3 separate regions of the Homo sapiens genome follow, and regions 2 and 3 are each linked to region 1. The links come from fine-mapping of genetic effects on gene expression. A gene starts in region 1. Each other region holds a variant in brackets. All regions are shown on one strand. Distances are between the middles of the regions. Region 1 holds the start of NCOA2 (nuclear receptor coactivator 2). Region 2 overlaps NCOA2 (nuclear receptor coactivator 2). Region 3 overlaps NCOA2 (nuclear receptor coactivator 2).

Region 1 (10,607 bases):
TCTACCTACAGACCACCTAGTCTTTTAATTTCAGTTGCCTTCATAGTTTATCCTTAAGATTTCCACTCCTTTTCATAATGTTTTACCACAGCTAAGAGAACTACACCAGCTTCTAAAATACCCACAAAAGTCACATTCGTGATCACCTCTATCTAGAAATTAGCATCTAGAATCCATAAAGATGTGTTTTCTTTATGATGTCTGAATTGAAGGTCTGCAACATTAAAATTGTATTTCATAGCTTTTCCAGCCATTACTTGTAATAGACTTTAGAGAGTAATATGACATATTCTTTTTACAGCTTGCAATTCATAAAGCCCTACTAGAAGCCTTTAAAAACAAAAAAGGAAAAACACAAACACCTAGAACACAAACACTTAGAACCTTTTTTGTTTGTTTAGAAAAGTAAGGCATAGAGAGGTAAAATTAGCCTTAAATATGAAAGGGTACAAAAAAACTGAAGGTTTTGTTCCATTTTCCCTTAAATGGCTTTCATTTTTGGTATGAACTATAGTCTTATTCTTATACTATGGAAAAAGATCCTGATTTGTTGCTGATTTTATGATTTGCTGCAATAAAAGACCAATACCTTAAAGCAGTGACTTATTTTCTCCCTCCTATTCTCTTAATCTAAAATCAATAAAGCATGTAATAACATACATTACTAAACAAAACTACATACGCAAAATACTAAAGTTAGTAATTTCTTAAATAGCAGTTTTTTCATAACAATAAATAAGCATTAACTTGGCTTTTAAATATAACTTCGATCATGACACAATAATGGCCAAAATATCAAATGAGGGCACATGCTGTGCATTTCAGAAAAATTGTTTAAAGAGACCATCCCCTTTTGTATTTTCCTTTACTATCCAATATCCTAAAGAGTGCTTAAAGAATTGCTTTTCAACTCAATACAACACAAACAATTTTTCCTAAGAAATCCAAGCTGTCAACTTATGGGTCACATTTCAACCTTATGTAATTTGAAACAGCTACGGTACTGAATCCTTAAATACAGGGCATATAATGGAAGGACTGCTCACAGATCCTTGATGTTACTGAAGCTTGGAAAGCTTTAATAAGATACAACTATAAATAAAGACAACTAAGGAGCATTACCCCTTTATCCACAGCCCAAATCCCCCTCCAAGCCTTACATTTTATATTTCCAATAAAATGCTCTTCTAACACTAAGCCACTCATCTAAATTATATTTAACCAATGAAGGGTTAAAATCCAAAACATATTAACTACTCAAAACATAATAAATCCGTAATTGGTGAGCTCCTTTTCTACCCTCCTGCTTCAGTATACTGACATCTAAAAGTCAAAGAACTCCTCTGTTTAAGACTGAAATTCCCAGGAGGAAGGAAGCTCAGATCCAGTCTGAGAGCACACAATGGAATCACAGCTGACGATGCACATCTTTTTCTAGATGTCTCCATATGCTTGAGAGGTTTTTTTCCCCCCAAGCCAGCCATTAGGAGACTTGGTTCTCTCTGCCACCAAGAATCTTACCACATTTTCAAGGATTGTTGCAAAGAATTAAGTAAAATAATGTGTTGCTCTTCAGCATACAAAAGAGAGAAGGGCATATGTCAGAGTGCCCATAAGTAACTAAATTAACAAATGGTGGGGGGTTTTGAATGTTGTCAAATTTTGAATGTTGTTTTTAATACTCCTTACCTCTCTGTCAGTCTAAGTGTTTGGTTTACCTTCTCTGTTTTTACTATTTTATTACAAAAAACATCTCAAGAGCCACAGCAAAATGCAATTAATTCTTGTCTACATGCACCCAAAATGATCCTGAATTGGGAATTCTCATGGTAAATTTGAAAACACTATATTACAACAGAACACATTTGTAAGATTTGGCAAATACTGTTCCCTAGAACTGCAGTCCCCTTCGATTCTTTCTTAGCAACCCAAGATTAATAAAAGCTTGACTTATAGAAAAGATACACATTTTCCACATAAGATACCTAAAAGAAAACACTCCCAAAATTAAATTCATGGGATACTTATGACAAAAATCAATGAATTCATTCTTAATCTAACACTTTTCATTCTTTGAGCTCCCAAAGATTCTACAAATTCCAGGTGAGAAAGGGAGCATTACTTCTGTCAGTGTGCCTAACCTCACCAACAAAGAACAGGAACACACACACACATACACACACACACACGCGCACACACACATGCTTTGTAGCAGCTGCTTTCTTTTTAAAAGACTGCTATTCCTGCAGAGCAACCTGTGATCTTTACAGAGAATCAAAGACCTCTGTTCCTAAAAGTCAAGAGTTGAGAAAGTCACTTGACTGAACGCGCAATAAACAGTTAAAACCAAAGATGTCTCCAAACCTTGTATAAACCAGAAAAGTACCCACACACTGTACAATTCAGCAGTGTTTAAGAAAATTAAAATTATTTTTAAGAATCTTTTGTGTGGGAGTAATCTGGCAAACTACATTTTACTCAGACTTTTTCCTGTAGACAAATATTCTTTGATTAGCTTTGCTCCTTAAATACCCACACTTAATGTTTCAATCAGTGATGCTTTAGTTCCCAACTTCATTTTGTTTGCAAAAAGAAAAAAAAATGCATACCATAAACCACAACTTTTTTTTTTAATGACATCCCCAATGCCGAAGTTTCAAGTACACTTTGGGAACTGGAGCTCTAATTAAACAAGAAACCAGTGAAGCCATTATGAACAATGATGCTTTCTACTACCAATAATCAGTTGACGTGATACTGCTCCCATGCCTTCATTCTCAGGGTTCCCTTTCAAATTTCATTGTCCCCATTCTGGCATAGCTGAGTGAAACCGAGATAAGAGGTAAACGGGTAACTTCTGTCTTCTGTGACCCTTAGCATGTAAACCGGACGCTGAGGTCCAGGACATGATCACTACAGCATATGCCATTTTAGAAACCGGCCTCGGTGAGTTACTGCCACATCCTAAAGTGGCTTTAGACTTCGTCGTGTCTAAGACAACGTCTATTTCGGTACGAAAGACATACAGGACCTCGAGTGCCTCGGCAGCCTCTGCGGGTCGGAGCCCCTATAAGTGACACAACCCCAGAAATCAAGGAGCGGGTGACTCGGGGATGGACAAGAGTAGCTGGCTCTCAGCGTCTCCATGACTCCCCCGCCCCGCATGCAACTCTGCTCTAACTGGTCAGGAGAAACCCCGCCCCCTTCCTTCCTCCGGTCCGCACGATTGGCTCACCGACACCCGGCAGGTCAGCTCCCTGCCTTCGATTGGCTCACTGCCCCATCAGTCAGACGCACCGAGATTCGGGTCGGTGGGAGGGGAAGGCGTCGGAGGAGGTGGAGAGGGAGTGGGATTAGAGGACGAGGTGGCGGAGGAAGGTGTTCAGGCTCGGTCTCTGGTTTGGGAAAGTTTCCCCTACCAGTGACGGACCCAGAACGCGGGAGGCCCAGTCCAGCTCCGGGCCAGCGGAAGGGGGCTCCAGTCCCCGATTCCCGCCCCTCGGTCCCGCAGGCCCCGGAAACCACTAGAGGGAGGGGAAGAGGGAGGGGCCATCTAACCAGGGACCGACCCACCCCCGGTCTCGGAAGAGGCGCCTCTGGGACTCCCCCGAGGGGAGGAGGCGGGGAGCGCAGCCGGCAGCGACGACCCCGGCCCCCTCCCCCAGCACCCCCCAGGGGCCCGAGAGGGCCGGGTCCCCGTGCCCGGGGCGTGACCGTCGCGAGGCGGCCACAGGGCCCCTCCCGCTTCCCGCCTGGGGCCCCGAGGGCCTGTCCCTTCAGGGGCGGAGAGAAGGGGGCGAGAAAAGGGGGCGCTGGCGAGCCAACCCGGAACCTCCCGGTCCGCCTCCCGCCCCCGGCCCCGGCCCCAGCGCGCCTCCTGCATACACGCCCGCACCCAGAAAGTTCAGTCAGGGGCGAGCCCGGCTCGGCGCCGCCGGGGCCCGGCCCCCGGCTCCCCGCCCCCACCACGGCCCGGCCTGCTCGGCCCCAGCGCGCCGCCCGCCCCGCCCGCCGCAGCTCCTTCCCGTCCGCCCGCGGTGCTCGGCGCCCCTCGCCCCCCACCCCCGGGGCTGACACGGGCCCGGGCCACCCGCCGGGCCGCGGCTCCCCTTCCCCGCCCCGCGCTGCAGCTCGCCGGCCGCCCCGACACCCCGCTTCACCTTCACACACCCCCAGCACTTCCCGAGTCCTGCCTCCCCTCGCCCGGCTCCCACTCTCCGCTGCAGCCGCTCCGCGCTTCCATTAAAGAATGCACCTTCCCAGGATTCACCTTCTCGGCTCTGCCGCGCTGCCCCCGAGGGGTTAGAGCCTCGGTCTCCGCCGACCCCGCACCGGGCTGGGCAATGGGCACTCGCTCCTCGGGGCGGGGGCCGCGCCCGCACCCCCGGCCGCGCCTCGGCGCTCACCTCTCGCCCGCGCCGCGGGCTGCAGCCTCCGCCCGCCTCGCGCTCCGGGACTCGTCTCCTGAGCTCTCGCAAGGCGCTGGAGCGCCTCCTTTCTCTCCCGGGGACTCCGCGTCTCCCCGTCGCTTCCCGCCCTCCCCACCCCCAAGCCCCAACTCCCCAGCGTCGCTGCGCCTCCGGGATGCAACTCCCGTTTTCCGCGCACTCCGGCGGCGGTCCCCGCACACAAAAACAGCCTCTCGGAGGCGCACGGCTCTGTCGGAGCTCGGCGCAGGAAGGGCAGTCGCGGCCGGGGGTGGGGACGCGGCGCCCCCCGCCTGCCGCCCGCCCCCCGCCCGCCCTCGCGGCCCCGGGGGAAGGCGCGGTTACCGGCTCGGGTCGGTCACGCCGTCAGGTGCCGGCTGCCGTCGGCGCTGACCTTCGCCGCCGAAGCTGTAGCCGAGGCTGCGGCCGCCATGTTCCCGTGTTAATAACTGCTGCCTGGTTGTTTATTTCAATGGAGATCCTCCCCCAACTCCCTCCTCCTCCTCCTCCTCCTCCTCCTCCTCCGCGTCTCCGCACTTGCGGAGAGACAGACAGCGCGAGCTCGCGAGCAGGGGAGGGGGCTCGGGAGCCAGGCCGTCCCTCCCTCTGCCTCCCCGGCAGTGGCCGCCGCCAAGTCCTGTCACCGGGAAAAGGACGGGGCGGAAACTTGCCTCTCGCGCCCCCGAGGAAGGGGCAAAGGTGGACGCAGGGTTGTCCGGGGAGCAGCCCCTGGCCGCGGGGTCCGCAGCATCTCCGTCGGCAGAGTCCTCTGAGAAGGCGGCCCGGGGAGAGGTGAAGAAGAGTAAGGGGACAGGGGACAAAATGGGTGACTGTGGTAGAGGGAGGGTGACCTAGAGGTGACTGGAACTGAAGAGAGAGTCAACAGAGGACTGCATGGGAGGGCAAAGGGCAATGCCAAAAAGAAAACTAGCGACTGGGACGGGCCTGGGCCGCTGAGTTAGAGGCAGTGGGGCCTGGGGGCTGCAGACGGCAGGGACGGTGCCCCAGGACGAAGATCGGGGAGAGCCGAGTTCCAGGGTCGCCAGCAGAGGACCCTCGCGCCCGTCCGGCCGGACCCTTCGGCCAGCACCCTGCACCCCCTCGGGCGCACCTCACCCTACCCAACTCCCGGTCCTGCCGCTGCTCCCCGGAGGCGCCCCGCATCCGTCAAGTCCCCTACGGCTCCAACAGGGAGAGGCTTCTCCCATTGCAGTCCTAGCTCCAGAGGGGATGGAGAGGCGCGACTGTGGGAGCTGGAAGGGGCACCACCCGGCAATTGCGGGATAAAGCAAATGCTGCACACAGAGTGTGAAACTTAACCTGGTTGAGAATTTTCGGCACATCATGAAATCATAAGTTTGTATTGGAAAGTCCATTCTCTAGACATCCGTGAACAAAGTACTGAGGGGACGTAGGAGATTGGCACTGAAAATGCGAGAACCCCCATTTAAGTGTTACTTAGACCAATCTGTTTTACGCTTTGGAAAAGCAAGTTTTTTTTCCAACTTATACGGTAATTAGTTGAAAAAAAAAACTTTTGTTTAATGGCAGTTATCAAACTATGAGAGGAACATATTCCCTGATTTTAATCTTATAATGAGAAAGGTCACTTGCGGTAGACAATAAGAGTGTTTATTGAACACTTACTGTGAATCTGACTGTGCTAGGTGATGTATATATGCTATAGGCCTTAATCCTCAAACCTTCCGAAGTCATTGCCGCTTTTCACTTCACACAAAAAATTGAAGCTTAAAGTAATTTGCCCAGGGTCACAGCCAGTAGTTGGAGAGGATGTGAGCCCAGTTCTGGTGAGCTCCAAAGCCCATGCTTTTAAACATGTCTTCATCCTAAAATTTGTGGGTGTACCGCCAATTTTATTTGGGAAAAGAATAAAAAAAATGTGTGGGGTGTGTGTGTCTGTGTTTGTTTGTGGATAGAAAATGCTTGGAAGCCTATAACAACAAATGTTAGCGCTGGGGAGTGTAAGAAGTGGGTGATGAGGCACTTCCACTTTTTATTTTGCACACCTATCTAATGTTTGAAATGTTTGCATTGACTATGTATTAATGTATATTTTTAAAGGTTTTTTTTTTTTTTTTTTTTTTTTTTTTTTAGCTAGCTGGAATAATAGAATTATGTTCCCAAAGCGTTGAGAGGAAATGGAGAGTTTGTTTATGGCCTATCTTCTGCTAATACCAGTCTGTAGCTTGTCTACAATGGGGTAGTAGTCACCTGAGGTTTGTCACAATTCTGAACTCCCGATTTGCTTTCCTGTCCTCACCCCCAACTGTGAGTTATCAGGAGTTGTGATAATAAATAAATAAATAAATAAAAATTTAAAAAAAAGATTCTCCTTCTTGCTTGCTATCCCTCCCATTTTGGCAGAAGTCCAGAGTCTATCAGTCCTCTGCAATCGTAGATTTCACACTTTTTAAAACTACCCATGATACCTCTGCAAACAAATGACTCCCCCCATTGCATTCCCGTATTACCCAATAAAACGTCTTACGACGGCTGAAGACTTTTTCTTACAAGAAATAAACAAAAACGTCTGACAGCATAGTAGATGAGTTCCATGCCCAAGTGCTACTCAATTGCCTGAGCTTGAATTGAATTGTGTGACTTAAACGCGCTCTGGTACAATCTCTGGGTGCCCTCTGAACTTCAGGCTCTTGCTGTAACAGTAGTCTGTCTTGCACTAGAGTTGTTTATATGTTTGTCTTTCTCTTTCACTAGATTGTAAGTGCAACAGAGCCCAAGACCTAGTCTTGTTCTTGTTTGTACATGCTATAGCACCTAACAAGGAATGTATGATGTTTGTTGTTTCATTGAATTTGTGAAATATAAATAATAGTATCTATTCCGATCCTCATGTCCTCTTCCCCACCTCATCTTCCAATCCCTTGCTCATAAAACATGTTTATAAAAAACATCTTCCATACTTAGAAAGAACTTTGATTCCCATGAGACCTCAGAACAATTGTTTATTAAAACTAGCCATAATTTTTAGTGAATCATCACTATGATAATGTAAAATGAAAAGGTAGAGGAGGCGGTAAATAAGTTGGCTCAATGACACAAATTAAGAAAGGAAGAAGAAGGAAAGAAAAAAGAAGGCAAAGATATAGGAACTAGGTATATTACCAAGAGAGAACAACAAGGAAAAAATATGTGGGTGCAGATCATAAAGGGGAAGGAAATTATTGAAATTTAGTGGAAGTAGAAATAACATACCGTGAATGGATGAGGCAAGGAAACACCAAAAATGTCAGCAGAATCATAAATGCAGCATGGAAAAGTAAAGAAAATGACAAATTATATATTTAACAATATAACCTAGGAATAATCAGAACAATATGACTGCTACAAGACAAGAATTTCTATTTTTGTCTGCCTTTTCTTCCACAGTTTTCAAAGTACTCACTTTTTTCATAAGTAAACTGCATAAAAGTGGGAGATTCTATACTATTTTTGAGTTAATACTACTAGCATACATCATGAGATTAGAGGTAACAGTATGGTAAAAAAGAGCTATAGAATATAAGCAAATAAATATGATGTGAAGTGGTCTCTGTAAGTTACTGTGTGACCTCAAACAAGTCACTAAATATCGCAATTTCCTCATCTGTGTAATTGTTGCAAGACTCAAAATGGTGTAAATAAATGTACTTTGTTAACTATCAAGCTCTTTATACAGATGTAAGGGAATATTATTATGTCAGCTAATATGTAGCACAGTTATCTCTGTTTTGGTGCATTCCTAAATTGCCAAAGCAAAAATCTATAGTTCATTCTATTAAAATGTAATCATAGGGTGGGGGCGTCAGTTAAAACATTTGTTTGTCAATTTGATTATTGAACGACTGTGATGAAATGTTTCATTCTTATTGTTTGCTCTCTTCTAAATCCCTTAAATAGTATAACTACAATAAACAAATGTCTAATATAAGTCAAGCATATTACATAAATTTTTTCCTTACTGAAGTAGTCATTGTATGTATATTATTCTCATTTTATGTACAATAAAGCTGAGCTTCAGAGACTTCAAGTAAATTAATGCAAAGTCATAGAACTGCCTTCGCTGCATATCTAAGATTGTGTTAGGATTCTACTCTTCATCACTTGTATTTCTACTACTCTGAGAAACACATTGGCTGGGCGCAGTGGCTCACGCCTGTAATCACAGCACTTTGGGAGGCCGAGGCAGGCAGATCACGAGGTTAAGAGATTGAGACCATCCTGGCCAACATGGTGAAACCCCGTCTGTACTAAAAATACAAAAAAAAAAAAAAATTAGCTGGGTGTGGTGGCGCGCTCCTGTAGTCCCAGCTACTTGGGAGGCTGAGGCAGGAGAATTGTTTGAACCGGGAGGCGGAGGTTGCAGTGAGCCAAGATCGCACCACTGCACTACAGCCTGGTGACAGAGCAAGACTCTGTCTCCTAGAACATAATGCATACTCAATAAATGATCATGAAAAGAATGAATAAATGAATGAATGGGCTCCCTTCAAGTCATACTGTACACTGTCACAGGATTGATCCCCTCAGTCTTATTTTGTTACTTTCCCACTTGAAAACACTTAATGATCCTTCATTAACTATGGAATACAATTCAAATCCTTCATCTTAGATTAAGAACCTCTTTGATATACCCCCTCTATTCATACCTCCCTTATTTCTCCCCCTCTATTCATACCTCCCTTATTTCTCAAGCAAAAACAAATATTAATACACCCACACTCATTCCAGGGTATTCTGAGTGAGATTGACATGAGTTTCAATCTTGGCTCTTACTAACTGGGTGAACTTGGGCAAGTTATTTGGCATCTCTGCAAATTTTATCAGTGCAATAAGACAAGAAAATGAATTGGAAGGAGGTGAAACCAAACTTATTCACTAATGATGATATAGTGTACGTACAAAATTCAAAAGAATCCATGAACTACTAAAATGAATGTAGGATCACAAGGTACAAGGTCAATTGTATTTCTTCTGTATGTTAGCATGAAACAACTGGAAAATGAAAATTTTAAAATGCCATTTACAAAAGCATTTTAAAAATCAAAATTCAGGAATAAATTTAATGAAAGATGTCACATGATCTCTACATTGAGAAAAAAATATTGCTAATAGAAATTCACAATGGCCTAAAAACAGAAATAGACTGGGCACAGTGGCACATGCTTGTAGTTCCAGCTACTTGGGAAGCTGAGGCGGGAAGATCACTTGAGCCTAGGAGTTGTAGACCAGCGTGGGCAACATAGCAATACTGTGTCTCTTAAAAAGTTAATTTTTGTGTGTGTGTGTGACATGACCTTACTCTGTCACTCAGGCTGGAGAGTGCAGTGGCACAATTACAGCTCACTGCAGCCCTGACCTCCCTAATAGTCAGGAATACAGGTGTGTGCCACCACACCCAGCTTTTTTTTTTTTTTTTGGATTTTTTTTTTTTTGTAGAGATGGGGTTTCACCGTCTTACCCAGGCTGATCTTGAACTGCTGGGGCTGAAGTGATCTGCCCACCTAAGCCTTCCAGAGTGTTAGGATTACGGCATAAGCCATCATGCCAGACCAAAACATTAAATTTTTAAAACAAGAGATGGGACCAGGTATAGTGGCTCATGCCTGTAATCCCTGCACTTTGGGAGGCTGAGGTGGGAGGATCACTTGAGGCAAAGAGTTTGAGACCATCCTGGGCAACAGAAATGGGCAAAAGGACTCCATTTCTGTTTTAAAAAACAGTATTAAGATGTCATCAGTATTAACATGTCAACACTTAGCAAATGGATCTATAGATTCAATGCAATCCCAATCAAAATCCCAGCAAGCTTTTTAAGTAAAAATTGAGGTCTAATTCTAAAAATTATATGCAAATACATATTACCTAGAATAGCCAAGACAAACTTGAGGAAGCATGAGTTGAATGACTTACACTGCCAGCTTCAATATTTACTATAAAGCTACACTAATTAAGACAGTGTGATATTGGTGTAAGAATAGACAAACAGATCAATGGAACAGAATAGAGAATTCAGAAATAGGCCCCCAAACTTATAGTCAATGAATTTTGTACAAAGTTGTCAAATAAATTCAATGGAAAAAGGAAAGTCTTGTCAATAAGTAGTGCTACAACTAGGTATCAGTTTGGAGAAAATAGTGACTTCTTACCATACACAAGAAT
Region 2 (10,607 bases), 180 kb before region 1:
CAAGTGGGAAGAACCATGATCAGCTCCTGCTTGCTGAATTCCTCTCAGTAAGAAAATAAAAAAAAATGTAAGAAAATCAGTGTGCTCGTCATCACTAACATAATCAAAATAATATTTAGGTAAGCAAGAACAAGCCAGTGACAGAGGTTTACGTACTGAAAGAGCTAAACAAAGAGACTTACAAAGACTGTGAGGAAACCATAAAAGACTGCTACTCAAGGTGTTCAATAACTGCTTACCAAAAGAAAAAACAATGCAGCAGGACAAGCTGAAATCTGCATTTAAAGTCTTTCCTAGAGCTCCTATTCGATACTACTTCCCCTTCCTTCTGGCCCCCAGACTTCTAAATCACCTTTGCCCCTCCTTTACTTTTTGTAGTGGCTTCTTTTCTTTTCTGGATAGAAAAAAAAAAAAATCAAAGGGAAGGTAAAGTGCATTAGAAGACAGAGAACTTAAGGAAGATGACAGAGGACAATCAAGAGTAAGGACAAAGAGCAAGGAGGGCTAAGGAACATAACGCGTACCAGTCAAACCGCCAGGCCACTTCTTCCCTGTAATCTGGGCTGCCCAGTCTCAGCTGTACTACAATAATTTCTTCTCGCCACTTCTGATACAATAGCGCAGTGGAGTTAGTTTTTTTTTTTTTTTTTTTAAAGAGTCATATGTAAGCAGAATGAAGAAATACTGTATCCGTTTAGGGAGGCTGCACCACTGGTACACATTTGATTCAAGAGGTGACACAGAAGGGAATAATTCTCAAAGCTGATACCCAAGCTTCTTGCTGGTTAGAGCAATGCAACCAAGTCCCAATGTCCCACACTGTGGTCACAATTTTGGCCTGATAATAAGTATAATCTGTATTTATTTACTATGAGAGAGGCAGACTATGAGAGGCAGGATAGCAGAGAAGTGAAGGGCCAGTATTCATGTCCAAGCTTCACCACTTTTAGCTATGCGAGGCTCACTTGAGACCAGGAGTTGGAGACCAGCCTGAACAACGTATCAAGATCCCATCTCTGTAACAACAACAAAACCCTAAATTCCAGAACCCTTCTCAGATGATACCTTATAGACATTCACTTTCAGTACTTCTCTCTGAATCACAATTCCCATGGTTTCAATCATGAGATGTAAGAAAAAACATTACACATCCAGTCTAAGTAACCTTTCAACAAATGACCTAGGAGATTTTCACTCTGAAAGCAGCTTTCTAGAAGTCATACAAACTTAAGAAAGTTTCTATCATTACAATATAGCCTTCAATATACAGCATAGCAAAATGCCCTATATAGTAGGTATAGGTGACAAGTTTTTTTGTTAAAATGGCTATTCCCCCCCTCAAAAGCAATGCCACATATACTAAAATGTATAGTATTATCAGAAAGATCAGAAAGCTTTCAACAGACAATTAAAGTAAGGAACTGTTTTACCTAAAGTCATATACACCCAGTTTGAGGATGATTTAACATTATATATATATTATTTGCATCATTTACCTGTGAATATTCTAAAATACATACACGAACAATTGTAACATATGAGGGACAGCACTGGGACATAGGGACCAGAGGGAGAGAGAAGAGGAGCCATTTTCTAGTCTAAGTATAGTAAAATCATTTGAGCAGACTGTTTATAATTTGCTTGTACCTACTCAAGGTTGGCTTAAAAACCACTCTATTTGTAGACTGAAAATATCATAATTTCCTCTTGAAGTAAGTTATTTAAATGCCAAGTGGTTTTCCCTTTTATTATGTAGTGGTATCTTAAACACATTTCCTCAAAATCTGCAACTTTCGGCTTGATGAACATAATTGCTTCCTTATATTTTTGTGTCTACTGCACATGTCCTCTTCTCAGAGCAACATTCCTGGGCTATGTGCCCCAGTACACACCTCCAACCCACCTTTCCACCACCAAGGGGAAAGTGGGGTGGAGTCGGGGATGCCTGGCCAAGCCAAGGAAGGATGGCTGCCTCCTGGTAACCTCCAGGAAGTGCCAACATGCAAGGATGCCCTGTCTGAATCACTGCAAATCACCCATAAAAACAAAAAGGAGACAGACCTGAGACCAAAAGTGGGGGGAGCGAATGTAACACTGACACAGGAAGGGCAGGAGGAGGGTGGAGGGGGGGCAGACAGCTGCAGTCTTAGAGCAGACACATAAATTTATGCCCTGCATTTTAGTGGGAGAGCCGAATAAATAACAGAACCTCATGAATGAGGTGCTCTAACCTAGTGGACTGTCTGATATTTCTAATGCTTATGTGAGGAGGCTGGGCTGGCAGCAAGTGTCAGTATTTCACACTGGAACAGGAGGTGGGGCCAGGTGAGTTCATTTTTCCCCCAACTCAAAATACTGGGCAATGCAGAAGTGACACAAATAAAAACCAGAGAGAGATAGATAAGTTATAAAAACGACTTTCTTCTAAGTTATATAAATTACTTTTTCTATACAAATGTACATTCTAGTGTATAGTCACTCATAGAGAAATATCTAAAATAAACTCTATGGACAGAGGAATTTTTATGCACTTTTGTAGATCGAAGTTAAAAAATTCATTTCCAGTGTAAAGGTAGGAGATGGAAAATACTAAAGAGCAGCACTGAAGGTTCTAAAATTTCATTTGGTGACCAGCTCTAAATTAATAGTTTCTTATAATTTCTGCACACTCACATGAAATTAAAATTCTTAAGCATCTCACTCTCAATGCTGAAACTGTTTAACGTAAATCACAAAAACTGAAAATGACACAAGTAAACTCTCAGGCTGTATTTGATGGTAATTACAGTCATTGAGAGCAAACCAGTTTCTACCAGATGTTGGGGGTTGTGAAAGGACAAGTCTGAAAAAAAAAGTTTCAAATCATCCATTCTTGTTATCTGTAACAACACAATAGCCCTGTTTTCACAGTGACCATA[C/T]ATCCTCCCTTACATCCCTTGATATCAGCTTGGATGAGCTAGACGGTAGGGAAGAGTTATAGCCTTACGATTAGTAAGTTTTATCTCTAAAAAGTAACAATATTCTGGGAGGGGTGAACAAAGCCAGTTGAATCCTTAGCATAATGACAGAAAGCAAAATAAAATGTTAAACCTCAACACAATTCAAAAATGTACTTTCATGGAATTCACCAATATAATTTATAAGGTAACAAAGCTGTTGCTCTCAATACAACCTCATACCATTAAAGCTTGTTAATCATCCATAATTTATGTAAACGATAATATGCATTTTATCTTTTATCAAGACAGCCTATCTTCCAAACAAGGCTTGTAAAACTGCCAGATGCATTATATACAGAACAAATTCAGTTAAAGAATAAGGATACTACTGCTGCTGAACTCCAAACATAATAAAGTGATCGAACATCTGATCCTGACTGCTAGCTCCAATAAATGTTCTTAAAGTTAGGCCTTCTCTGAAATTCCCCAAGTTAGAAACGACACAGAAAGAGCTACTGAAACCACTTCTCTTATGAATGTCTACTTGAAGAGGACCTGCCTGATAAATCATCTAGCTCTTGTTATGAGAACAGAAAGACTTAGAGATTTCCGAGGTTCCTTCTGAGCTCTCTTTACGATAGACATATGAAATTGTGTAATATGTAGTCTAACCCTTTACAAACTTTTAAAACCAAGAAATGCTCAAGCAATATTAAAAGTATACATAAAACCTCACTTAAATACCCTTCCATTTCTATTTAACTAAACTACAGAAGGATAATCTTTTAGAGCCCACTGTTTCTCAGAATCCCACCTCAACAGCTAAAGCTGCATCCACTATTGCTTTATCACAAATGAAAACATTTGCTCATTCTAAACTGGTAACAGTTTCTCCTTCAAAGTACACTGTGTTCCAAGAGCGATCCCTTTATAAGGATAAAAGCAAAATTTCTGGGCCAGGCTCTGATAAGTCTAAAAAACATAGTATCTAATGCTTCAATAAACAAAATGTGCTTTTTGGATGTAGATGCCTGAGAAAGAAAAGAAAGTAGGCCAAACTTGGGAAGTCAGTAAGATGATACAGAAGACATCCAGTTGCTAGAGGAAGGGAAATACCTCTTTTCAAATAGGGTTAATTGGTCGAAATTACCCAAAGCAGACATTATTTTGGCAAGATCCCAACTTCTGGCAACAGTTGAATAAATATTCTATGCAGGAAATATACAGACTACTCAAGGATATAATGTTGATTCATACAAAGAATCATCACACAGACAAATAAAACAGAAGTAGAACTATGTGGATTTACTAAATGCTGGGATGACAGCGCACAGAAAATCAAACGTTGCTTCCCATTGGCAAACAAGTAATGCATTCAACAGTGATAGAGGACATGACACAATATTTTTAAAATTTTTACCTAGTAAAATTATGTATTATTTCCTCCCAAGTGTCATTACTCTTTTTTACTAGATCATAAGGGCTCTTTTAACGTCATCTTTACGTAATACTGTAGTGCTTCTTGGTTTTCATACAGTAAAATTTTAATTTGCCTCACATACTATAGTCTGTATCTACAGATTAATGTACAGAATCAAAAAACTGTACATTAATTCATATAGTAACAACAGTTAAGTTACAAAGTTTTAGAGGACTCACTTCAAATAAATCCAGAAAAATCTAGAATTTGTTTTCAAATAAGTTCAACTTTACTAGTTTAGAGCAGTTTACTGTACATTTGCCTTTTAAAAATAACAATAAGATAGACACAAACCACTATTATTAGGATATGATTTTTCAATACTAAAACACTAGCCATTTATTGTTAGGTAGAGGATTAAAGAAAATAACATATCCTGCAACCACAACTAGTCTCTAGGTAAACTGGCTTTAGCACCTACCTTCTCTTATGCTGTGTCTTAGTCCAGGAACAGTAATAACAGTATATAAACAAATGTTTAAGCTAAAAATTCCTTCCTCTCAGTATCGTCTGCTCTTAGATTACTTTTGTATAATGGCCTTAAAGTGGTATATTAGACAGTAACTAGAAGACATATTCCATTTTCTGACTGAAAGCCAATAATACTCATGAATTTTTTAGCTGAAAGACACTTCAAGATGCCATTGGGAAGACTGTAATAAACACATTAGGCTGCAAATGGGCAGTAGCAGCTCTTTAACACATGCTGCAATAATCAAATAAATGGCTACATTCATGTTCACTGGTTACACAAATATTTTGCTGCAACATATCCATCATCTGCATCTGTCCTAAAGAAGGGGAAAACCTCCTTCAAAGTCTTATCTTAGCAGAATTCAGGCCAGAATACATAAGTAGCAGGGAGCTGTTCTAAACTATCATTACCAACATGGGCGAAAATGTCTAGTCTGACATCAGTGGCACATGATGGCTTCTACTTTCTAAATTCTCATAGGCCAAGTTCCTTAACATAGCCAGTTACTGGACTGCTTATATATCGACGTCAGCTGGTGCGAATATGGCCAGGAATAGCAAGACTAGGTTTTAATGAGGCCTCAGATGAGAAAACATCGCAGGAAGAAGCTGCATTCCTTGCATAACGTAAGCATTTTCTCTCCCCTTCAAGCAGAGTGTACTCAGTGTCTTTTTATTATTCTGAAAACCAGTTTTCACCAAAGGCTTAGCATTCTGGAAAGAAGTCATCAAATCAAGGACTACAATGTAGCACTTGTGTTTGAGTTTCATAACTTGTCCAGACTAAAATTCAATTATCTTTCTTCATTCTGAAACCCATTTTAAATTTTGTTATGAGATTAAAAAATGACTTTCTAATTCCTGAGAAAGTTAACTGGCAAGGTCAAGACAGTCTGTACCTATACAAAGAGTGTTTTTATCATTTGAGTTGTCAACAGTTCTTAAATAAATGAGAGTTCTCTCTCACAGCATAATATGTTGTTTGGTTTTTTTGCTAACATTTATTGAAGACTTATTATGAGTTAGGTTACTTAGCACATATTTCCTTGCTTAAAAGCCACAATTTGATATGTATGTATATATACATCTTATAGATTATCTAACCTCTCCGACCTGTTTCCTAACAGGTCACACAGATCACGGGTGTAATGATAATAACCATCATCCATGGAGTGTTTCTACATTGGTTGGCGTTTTCTACGTACTTTACCTGTATACACTCCTTTAGTTCCTGTAACAGCCTGATTATCACCATTGTATAGATGAGGAAATTGAGGTACACGAGAAATAAAGTAACTTGAACAAGGCCACACAGGAAGTCTTGGAGCTCATGAATCCAAACAGTTCCTCAATTCTTAACCACTGTAATGTGGGCATTAAAGGGTCCTATACTTTGACACTTTCACTGAAGAGAGAAATTTATAAACTAGTATGTATTACAGGAAGCACTATATTTTAACTTAGTCAACAGTGACTATGTAATTTGAAAGCACTTTTCTTTTTCTTAAAAACAGTATCACTGTGAAATGTAAAACACTTCTTTCTGTTAAACAGTGCATATGTTAGAATCATGTATCCATTTATTCAATATATAACTAATGCTCCAGGCACTGCTGCAGACACTGGAGAGAAAGTCATGACAAAACAGCTAACAGTCCCTGTCCTCCTGCAGCTCACATTCCAGTGCAGAAAAGATGTCATGCTCAGCTCATGCACAATTATTCCCCGAAGATAAGCAAATATTTTTGTTATTACTGAATTTATTATGAAGCTATTAAATAAGACACCAACTAGAAATTTTATCTGGCATACCAAGAATGCTCAGTTTCACTTAAAACAGTAAAAGCCTTTTCTTCTGTTTCAGAAATGGTAATTGGTTAATTTAAAAAGTCAGTTATGAAGGGTAATTGTAAAAATGATACATACTACACCTTAATAATTTCCTTTTAATTTTAAACATATAAATGTAACTTTGAGTCTCAGTCTCCACTGGAGTTTCACAGTGTCCTTCTTGCATAAATCATACCTATACCTATAATTTATCATCTAAATAGTGGGCAATAAAAACAGTGTCTACTCTCCAATTTCTGTTTATTTAAAACAGACCTAGAACTTATAGACACTTAGATTTCTTAAAAGTGCTTATAAGGTGCAGATTTGTATGATTTTTTCCCAGTCTATTAGACATGTGTTATGTGTCCTATACACCCATTTGGCAGCAATGTTTCTTCATTTCACTTTGAGTCTTAGTTTTCACAGAAACAAATGTATCTTTTCAAACTCACACTTGATACGTTACATATATTTAATTAATTTATTATATTACATATATATTAATTAAATTATGTCATTATAATAAGAAGTACAACTGGCAAAAACTGTCCAGGAAACAAGAATCTGGCTCTTGGTAGGCATACAATATCATGGCTAGGCGCAGAGTGCCCCACTCCCTGCCCCGCTCCTCCCTGTCCTCCTGCTCCTCTGTTCCCCTACCCCTCTCCTCTCCTGTCCAGAGTCTCAGTCTCCACTGGAGTACTTAAGTTGCCCATCATCCCGAGACTCTCAGACAGCGGCAGCAAGAGGACATGATCTATTAAGGGGGAATGCAGATCACAACAAATATTAGTGAATACCTATTATGCACCAAGCAAGGTTCTAGTTATTGGAGAATATAGCAATAAACCCAATAGACCAAGTCACTGACTCTTATATTCTAACAGGAAAGTAGGGAGAGGGTGGGGAATAGTAAAACAAACAAAATATTTACCACATCAGATAGTGATTAGAGGTATAAAGAAAAACAAGGTAGGGCCAGGCGCAGTGGCTCACGCCTGTAATCCCAGCATTTTGGGAGCCGGTGCAGGTGGACCATGAAGTCAGACGTTCGAGACCAACATGACCAACATGGTGAAACCCGCCTCTACTAAAAAAATACAAAAATTAGCCGGGTGTGTTGGCGCATGCCTGTAATCCCAGCTACTCAGGAGGCTGAGGCAGGAGAATCGCTTGAACCCCCCAGGCAGAGGTTGCAGTGAGCCAAGATTGTGCCATTGCACTCCAGCCTGGGCGACAGAGTGAGACTCTGTCTCAAAAAAAAAAAGAAAAGAAAAGAAAGAAAAGAAAAGAAAAAGAAAAAGAGAAGAAAAACAAGGCAGTAAGATTAAGAGAGTATAATGTAGATGGGGTGAGGGATACTATTTTACATAGGTAGCCAGCAAAGTCCTCTCAGATGAGTGTTATCTGAGAGCTTTCTAACAGATCTCTAAGATTCATAATATAATTTCTTTAATATACAACCATTAATCATATGAAAAGCGGTACAATGTTGTGGCCTAGATCACATTCTCTGGTGTCAACTCTGGCTGGAAATCCCTAGAACACTACATATTTGACCCGTGGCAAGTTATTTAATTAACCTCTTTGGAGCTTTGTTTCTTCATTTGTAAAACTGGAGCAATAATACATACCTTTATAGGCTTGCTGAGAGCATGAAATGTTAAGGGCACAGAAGAGCAGCTGGCATATAGTAAGGGCTTATTTAATAAACATAAACTGTTATCTGAATTTAATAGACTATAAATGTTTATAAAATAATCTAAATTGATGGTGAATTTGGAAAGAAAAATTAATTTAAAAAGAAAATTAAAAAATTAAAAATTAATTTAAAACAGAAAAGTTATCAAAATATTAGCAGTTAAATTATTTCAATGGGCATTACGGATGTAATTTAATTTTTGTATTTTCCAAATTCCCTTTCATTAACACATCAGACTTTTGTGAGTTTATAATAAGAAGGAAGAGGGAAAGAACAGGAGGGAGAGAGGAAAGAAAGAAAGAAGAAAAGGAATGAAATAAAGCTGACTGTGCTGCTGGGAAAAACAAACAAACTAAAACCTAGGCAAACCAAACGGAATTTTTAAAGTAACCTGCTCTTTGGAATATAAACTGTAAGTGTATGAATTGTTTACATGCTTATTTTCAGAAAAAATCTTGCAACAACTGAGGGAAACCTATACTGTACTAAGTGGCACAAAGACTGCCTACAATGAATGAAATGAGAAATCAAATCTCATTTTACTGGTATTAGCAATGAAATTTCAAGTAAAAATTATTTTCTTTGGTAAACCAAAGGATAATTCTATAACAATTTCCAACCTACTAAATCTGTATAACTATACTTAAAACTTATGTTTTAATTATTTATATATATATATATATATAAAACTATACTTAAAACTTAGGGTAAACTTATATTTATCCTAAGTTCTTCTGTATAATATAGACAGATACTTAGATATTTTAGAGTCATTAGCATATCATATGTTCTTTAACTATATGGACTTCTCATGTTTTTTCTTCTACCAACTCTTTCAGAGCAAGAAATATATCTAAATCACAAGAGCTTTCCAGTAAAGGTTACTAAAATTGCCCTTCTATCTCAGAAAAATCTGGTCTATCCTTCCAAAGCAGCTCAAAGCATACTCCCTTTACGCAGGCTTCACAGATTCCACCAGGAAGAATTAAAGGTTCCCTTTTACTTTTTCCAAGCCCATGGTATGTTAAAGTGAAAGTAACACTTTTTTAAATGCCTCCTGATCAGCTGCCTCTTTCCCAGGAGAGGGTCCACGGTTTTGTTGGCACCCACTGTCACCATGAGGCAGCCCTTTGTGGGCTCCAGGCAGGCTCATGCTGCTGCCTCCCACTCGAGTGTCTCTGTCAGGGATGGGCCTTAAGAAACTCACTCCTTCTTCCCTTTTGTCCACTGTCACTCATTTAACTCCAAACTTTCCTGTGGGTTCTTTACCTCAATCAAACAGAAAAGCACAGTTTTGCCTCTGCAAAACTTTCAAGCATGTTGCATGAAAAAAGTACAGGACCCAAATTTAATAAAGGCTTGTGGTTTGATAAGAAATAAGGGACACAGTTATAGGCTGTTTTGGCAGTGTAAATAATGCTTCCTTTCTAGGGTGAGTGTGTAAGAAGTATTCTTCTGAAATACCTTTTTATGCTCTTTTCTCTGTTTTCCACCACACTTCTACAGTGGTAAAAAATAACAAGAAGGAAAAATCTAGTTTGGGGGGACCTCTGAATCATTTTCTTACCATACAAATTCCTAAAAACTTACTCTTCGTCAGATCATTACAATTATTCTGAACACTACTTGCTATGAGGCAATGGTTGACATTAATAATGAAAATGGCAGCTCTAGATTAACAGAAGCTCCCCTGCTCCAAAAAGATACCAATTTTATCTCATAAAAATAAACCAAATTAGGCCGGGTGCAGTGGCTCACACCTGTAATCCCAGCACTATGGGAGGCAGAGTGGGGTGGATCACCGGAGGTCAGGAGTTTGAGACCAGGCTGGCCAACATGGTGAAACCCCATCTCTACAAAAACACAAAAAAATTAGCCGGGCATGATTGCACGCACTTGTAATCCTAGCTACTTGGGAGGCTGAGGCAGGAGAATCACTTGAACCTGGGAGGTGGAGGTCGCAGTGAGCCATTGCACTCCAGCCTGGGCGACAGAGTGAGACTCCATCTCAAAAAAAAAAAAAAAAAGCCAAATTAAGCATTTTTATTTGCAAATAACACATCCCTACAGAATGTTTACTGAGAATTACTAGAACTTAGAAAGTCTTTTTTACAAACGGAATTTGAAAATTACCTTGGCACCTAAAAATGTGAATCAAAACCCTTAATTTAACAATTTT
Region 3 (5,000 bases), 210 kb before region 1:
TCTAGATGCTAACTAATTTAGTAATACACTATCATAAGACTTCAGAAAAGTTCTACCCAATGGCATTTTTCCCCCAGTGGCAGTTTGAAACAATAAGCTTAGCTTCAATGCAGATGCATGGGTTGAATCCAAGAAACCTGTTTTTGGAAATCCTGCCTGCCAGGTGATGGCTTACAGGTGAGGCTGAAGATGACTGATGTGACAGCTGGGCAGGTCCAGTTTTCAGAGCCATAGCAAGAACAGAAGGTAGCCTTTTTTTTGTAGACTGATAGCCTGGACACGAGGATGATGGTGTACTCATTTCATATGTAATTCACCTGCTTCTCAAATAAACTGAATACTGTCTTAGATTTGCTTTTTCAAAAACGCATTGTGTGTTGTTTTTAAATTACATCAACGGACAGTGGGCTTCCCAGAGAATGGAATGGTGGCAGTTTGTCAGCTCTGTATTGCCAAGGAAAATATTTGGCTGCATATAGGGTTTCCTGAGAGCAAGTTAGTACACGACCTCAATCTTTTCCAAGCTTATCATAATGCCGTAAGGCTATGCTGATTCAGCAAAGCAATAAATAATCACTTGCAAAATGCCCTGCTTCACAGGGATGTTATGAGACTTAATAAAATAATGCATGTGAAGCACTCTGAGCTCTACAGAAGAAAGGCAGGAAGTAATAATATTATTCTGCATTTATAATGACAAGCAGTCTTACAATGGCAAAAATCTAATAGACCTGTTCACAAATTACAAATAAAAACTAGCTTAAATAATTTAATTGTACAACAAAAAAAACCTGAAATCATTTCAGTCTGAAAAGTGGAATGAACAGACTTCATAAGGCTAAGTCAAAATGAAAAGAAATAGACAAGTTTCTACTAAACAGAAAGATTATATTGCTTTGTGAGAGAATAGAAATGGAATCAGAAACTTACAAGAAAGAAAAGTATATTTTATTAAAATTATTTTGTGACATTGCTGTTATGAATTAAATTTAGTTATATTTCTATGGCTTTCTTACTAATAAATTTTAAATCAAAGTCAGTATTAACAGTAATAAAATTTCTTCAGTTATCAATGATAAAACTGATTTAACTCTCAGTAGAATAAAACATGAATACTATACCAAATGTACATTGTTTCTTTTTAACAAATTAAAATAATGCTGGATTTTCTTTCTCTTCTTTTCTTTCTTTCTTCCTTTTTTGCCAACAGCATTTGTCTTATGGATGGGAAATGCCTATTTCTTTTTCCTCCGGACACGCCCAGCCAAAGGAACACGATGCATTAAATTCCACTTCATTTGGGGTGTCTCTCTACCAGAGCTGGCCAGGTTGAAGTGGCATTGCTAGGCTCTTAGGTGCCACTGAATTTACTGGATAGTGACGGGCCTTCTTGGTTCAGCAGATGCCATTTTCTCAAGGAAATCTCAGAATTTCAGGGGATCCAAGCTGTTTACCCTCTGTGCTTCCACAACATGTCCATAATATCATTTACTGTATCATATAAATCGTCTTATTTGATCTAGATCTCAGAACTCCCTCAAGATTGTCCAGTCTCTGAGCCAGAAATTCCATTTTTCATCTGTGTATCTCTATTCACCATGCAACTGCTGACCCATGTAGACACCATGTAGACCCAAGTGACCCACACTCTGGAGAAAACACTGTTTCCCTCAAGTGGGCTGAACAGGCTGTACAGCAGCAACTTCAAGCACATGGGACGAGGAATTTTACTCTCTAATTTTCATTTGTAATTTTGTTTTAGAGAAGTAGTAGTTTATGTTTTCTTTTTTAAAAATACATGATATTAGATGGTGGAAATGCAAAGATGAAAAAGACAAGCTCTGCCTCTTATAGGGTTTAGGGTGCACTGCCACGGTTAAGCCAAGTGCTGAAATGGGGTTAGTGGATTATCGTGATTAAAGTGTTAGGGATTTATGAACAAAAGAAAAATTAAATTTGAAATTTGTGAATTCATAAGTATTAAAAAGGTTTTTCTTTATTTAGCTAGAAGACTCCACTTGTTTGGAGAGTATAGGAAACAGCATTGATCTGGATGCTGAATAAAGAAAGACTCTAATTATCTAAGATTTTCACTAAGAATGCTTTCATCAGAGAATGAACATAGCAAAGCTGATTACTTAACTCAAAATAAACTTCCATCAACACACCAGGAACAATACATACACCTCAGGATGCTAACAGGGCCTAATTAGTTCTCTGAAGTATAACAGCTCAAAAAAATTTTTGGAAAATAAAAATGTGAAGATTAATAATCTCTTATATTATCCTCTCAGGATAAATCCAATTGCCAAGGAAATTAGACTTACAAATCTCAAAAATTCAGGCTAAGAACATACCCTGCAGGAATAAAAAGAAATCTGTTAATTTTTCAAAACTAAACCCAGTTAAGTGGTAGACTTAGAGAAAAACCTACAATCATGGAACTACAAAAGCATCTATACAAAGAGGAGTTATACTATCTGTCCTTTCTAAAGAAACTATGAGTCACTAAGTCAGGAATGGAACTAAATAAAACTCATTGGTGTTTAGATCTTTGCTCTCACGTATCCGAATATGGATTGGGAGCTCAATTAAAACCTTGATTTCCAAAAACAGAGAGGGTTTAGTAGAGTATATGAAAGTACCT[C/A]AGGGGCTCTTCAGACGAATTACTATAATAAACTATTTATAAGAAGGAAAGTAAGGCCTGGTGTGATGGCTCATGCCTGTAATTCCAGAACTTTGGGAGGCTGAGGCGGGTGGATCCCCTGAGGTCAGGAGTTCGAGACCAGCCTGGCCAACATGGCAAAACCCTGTCTCTACTAAAAATACAAAAAAAATTTAGCTGGGCGTGGTGGTAGACGTCTGTAATCCCAGCTACTTGGGAGGGTGAAGCAGGAGAATTACTTGAACCCAGGAGGCAGAGGTTGCAGTAAGCTGAGATCACCTGGGCGATGGAGTGAGACTCTGTCTCCAAAAAAAAAGTAAAGTAAAAGAAAGTTGGAAGAAGATGAACTTCAAATGACTACATTATAAATGAGAAAAATCAGGGGAATGGGAGTCTAAAAATCAAGGATCATTTGTGGAGGATACTTTGGTAAGGGAGCTAAAAGCAGTGGACCTAACAGCAAGAAAACTAATTGAGAAGCTGGTAGGTACATGACTTTGACACAAGAATATCTGATACTGCAGGTCTTTACAAACACTGATACCAGGTCCATAAACTTTCAGCTTCATCATGAATGACTTCTCCCACTCTCACTCCAAGGGTCATTTCAAAAAAAGTTAAATTGTTCATCATTTGTGTGCTTTAAAAAAATATGAAAATAGCCTTATTGTGTCCTATAGGCAAGGAATGGGCAGAGAGTATATTCTTACAATTCTGAGTGACTACTATAATGAATAGACAGAAATCAAAGATAAAACTTCTATCAATTTGAAGCCACTGAAGTAGTAAACAAAAACTCAAATGTCCACCTGGTTAGCCAGGTAATGTACAATCACTTCAGTACTGAAATAATGCCAGTCAAAAGACAGACAGGGTGGATTTCTATCCACTCCTCAAGCTGCACACATAGCCTCACCCACATTTCCTAGTCCCCCCACTTAGAATATCCTCTGGCATAGGGAGCTCCTAGAAAATTAGACTGAGTTTTCCTCTGAAGAGATGAACCTTACATTAATTCTTCATGTAATAAAAGACTCATCATTTACCTATACAGTGGCCTTTGTCTCTAAGAAAAGGAGGAAGAGAGAGGGAGGAAGAGAGAGGGAGGGAGAGGGAGAAAGAGACATACACAAATGGGATATGTTTTTATAGAAGTGAGAGAGACCCATGAGAATCTCCTGTGAGATTAAAAGAGATAAACTGAGGGGTTTCTAAAGACTGAAAAGGCCAGGGACGGTGGCTCATGCCTGTAATCCCAGAACTTTGGGAGGCCGAAGTGGGTGGATCACCTGAGCTCAGGAGTTTGAGACCAGCCTGGCCAACATGGCGAAACCCCATCTCTACTAAAAATACAAAAATTAGCTGGCCATGGTGGAAGGCGCCTGTAATCCCAGTTACTTGGGGAGGCTGAGGCAGGAGAACCGCTTGAACCTGGGAGGCAGAGGCTGCAGTGAGCTGAGATCGTGCCACTGCACTCCAGCCTGGGCGAGAGAGTGAGAATCCGTCTCAAAAAACAAAAATAAAAATAAAAACAAAAAATAAAAGACTGAAGACAACATGGGAGAGTTGAAACCAAGCTTTACATGTATTTCAAAGAATACATTTCCAATTGTATCTGTACGTGGAATACCATTTAGTAGGAGTTTTTAAGATTTGCTGAAAGTTTGTGACTTTTCCCTTATTTTACTTTGTTATTACAGTAACAATCCTTACTCCCCAAAGAGTTGAGCATTTGCTTCAGGGACAACTGTACATAAAAACCTGAATTTTGTGCTACAGCGGACCAGAGGAGGGGAAAAAAAAGAAATAAACTGATGGCTAGAGGAAGACAGCAGAATGGGAAGCAGGTGACTTATAAAGTAAAGGAAGGAACTTTGCCAGAGTCTTAGAAGAGTTACTGTGCTAGCCTGAGCCCTTAGTAGCTCCTGGCTTCCAGCCTGTGCATACACCTGTGACTGGACAACCCCACCACCCACGGGCCTGCCCCTCTGCTCCTAAGAGTCTTGCCTGGTATTTCATGGCAGTGGAGGCCTGCAAAGGGAGGAGCCAGGACACTACCAGGGCAGAAAGGAAGGAAGAGGCAACCATGCTCCAGGCTTCTCTGGAAATCCAGAACAGATCTTCCCAGGAAATATATGGATGTGTTGATCAATTAGCCTCTATAGTATCCCTCCTTGTAATAAACATTGGGTCAGTGGTTCCCACCTTTTGGGGTAAGAGGGCTCTTTTTAACATCAATAAAAATGGAGACCTGGCCAAGAACGGTGGCTCATGCCTGTAATCCCAGCACTTTGGGAGGCGGAGGCGGGCAGATCACGAGCTCAGGAGTTCGAGA

Evidence for each region. PIP is the estimated chance that this variant, and not a neighbour inherited with it, causes the effect.
Region 2: its variant is fine-mapped to the expression of NCOA2 in whole blood (TOPMed, PIP above 0.99).
Region 3: its variant is fine-mapped to the expression of NCOA2 in blood mononuclear cells (TOPMed, PIP above 0.99).

Annotation. Positions count from the first base shown.
Region 1 is chr8:70,398,928-70,409,534 of GRCh38, forward strand. NCOA2 (nuclear receptor coactivator 2) reads right to left here and starts at 4,881. Exons shown (of 23, transcript NM_006540.4): 1 at 4,773-4,881. RefSeq lists silencers at 3,478-4,137, 4,168-4,457, 4,498-4,807, 5,498-5,657 and an enhancer at 5,278-5,397.
Region 2 is chr8:70,217,567-70,228,173 of GRCh38, forward strand. The region is part of intron 2 of NCOA2 (nuclear receptor coactivator 2); the gene reads right to left. Among named protein-coding and RNA genes, the nearest start is that of PRDM14, 150 kb to the left of the region's middle. RefSeq lists an enhancer at 1,966-2,015. The variant C/T (reference allele first, on the strand shown) is at 2,919.
Region 3 is chr8:70,187,869-70,192,868 of GRCh38, forward strand. The region is part of intron 4 of NCOA2 (nuclear receptor coactivator 2); the gene reads right to left. Among named protein-coding and RNA genes, the nearest start is that of PRDM14, 120 kb to the left of the region's middle. The variant C/A (reference allele first, on the strand shown) is at 2,648.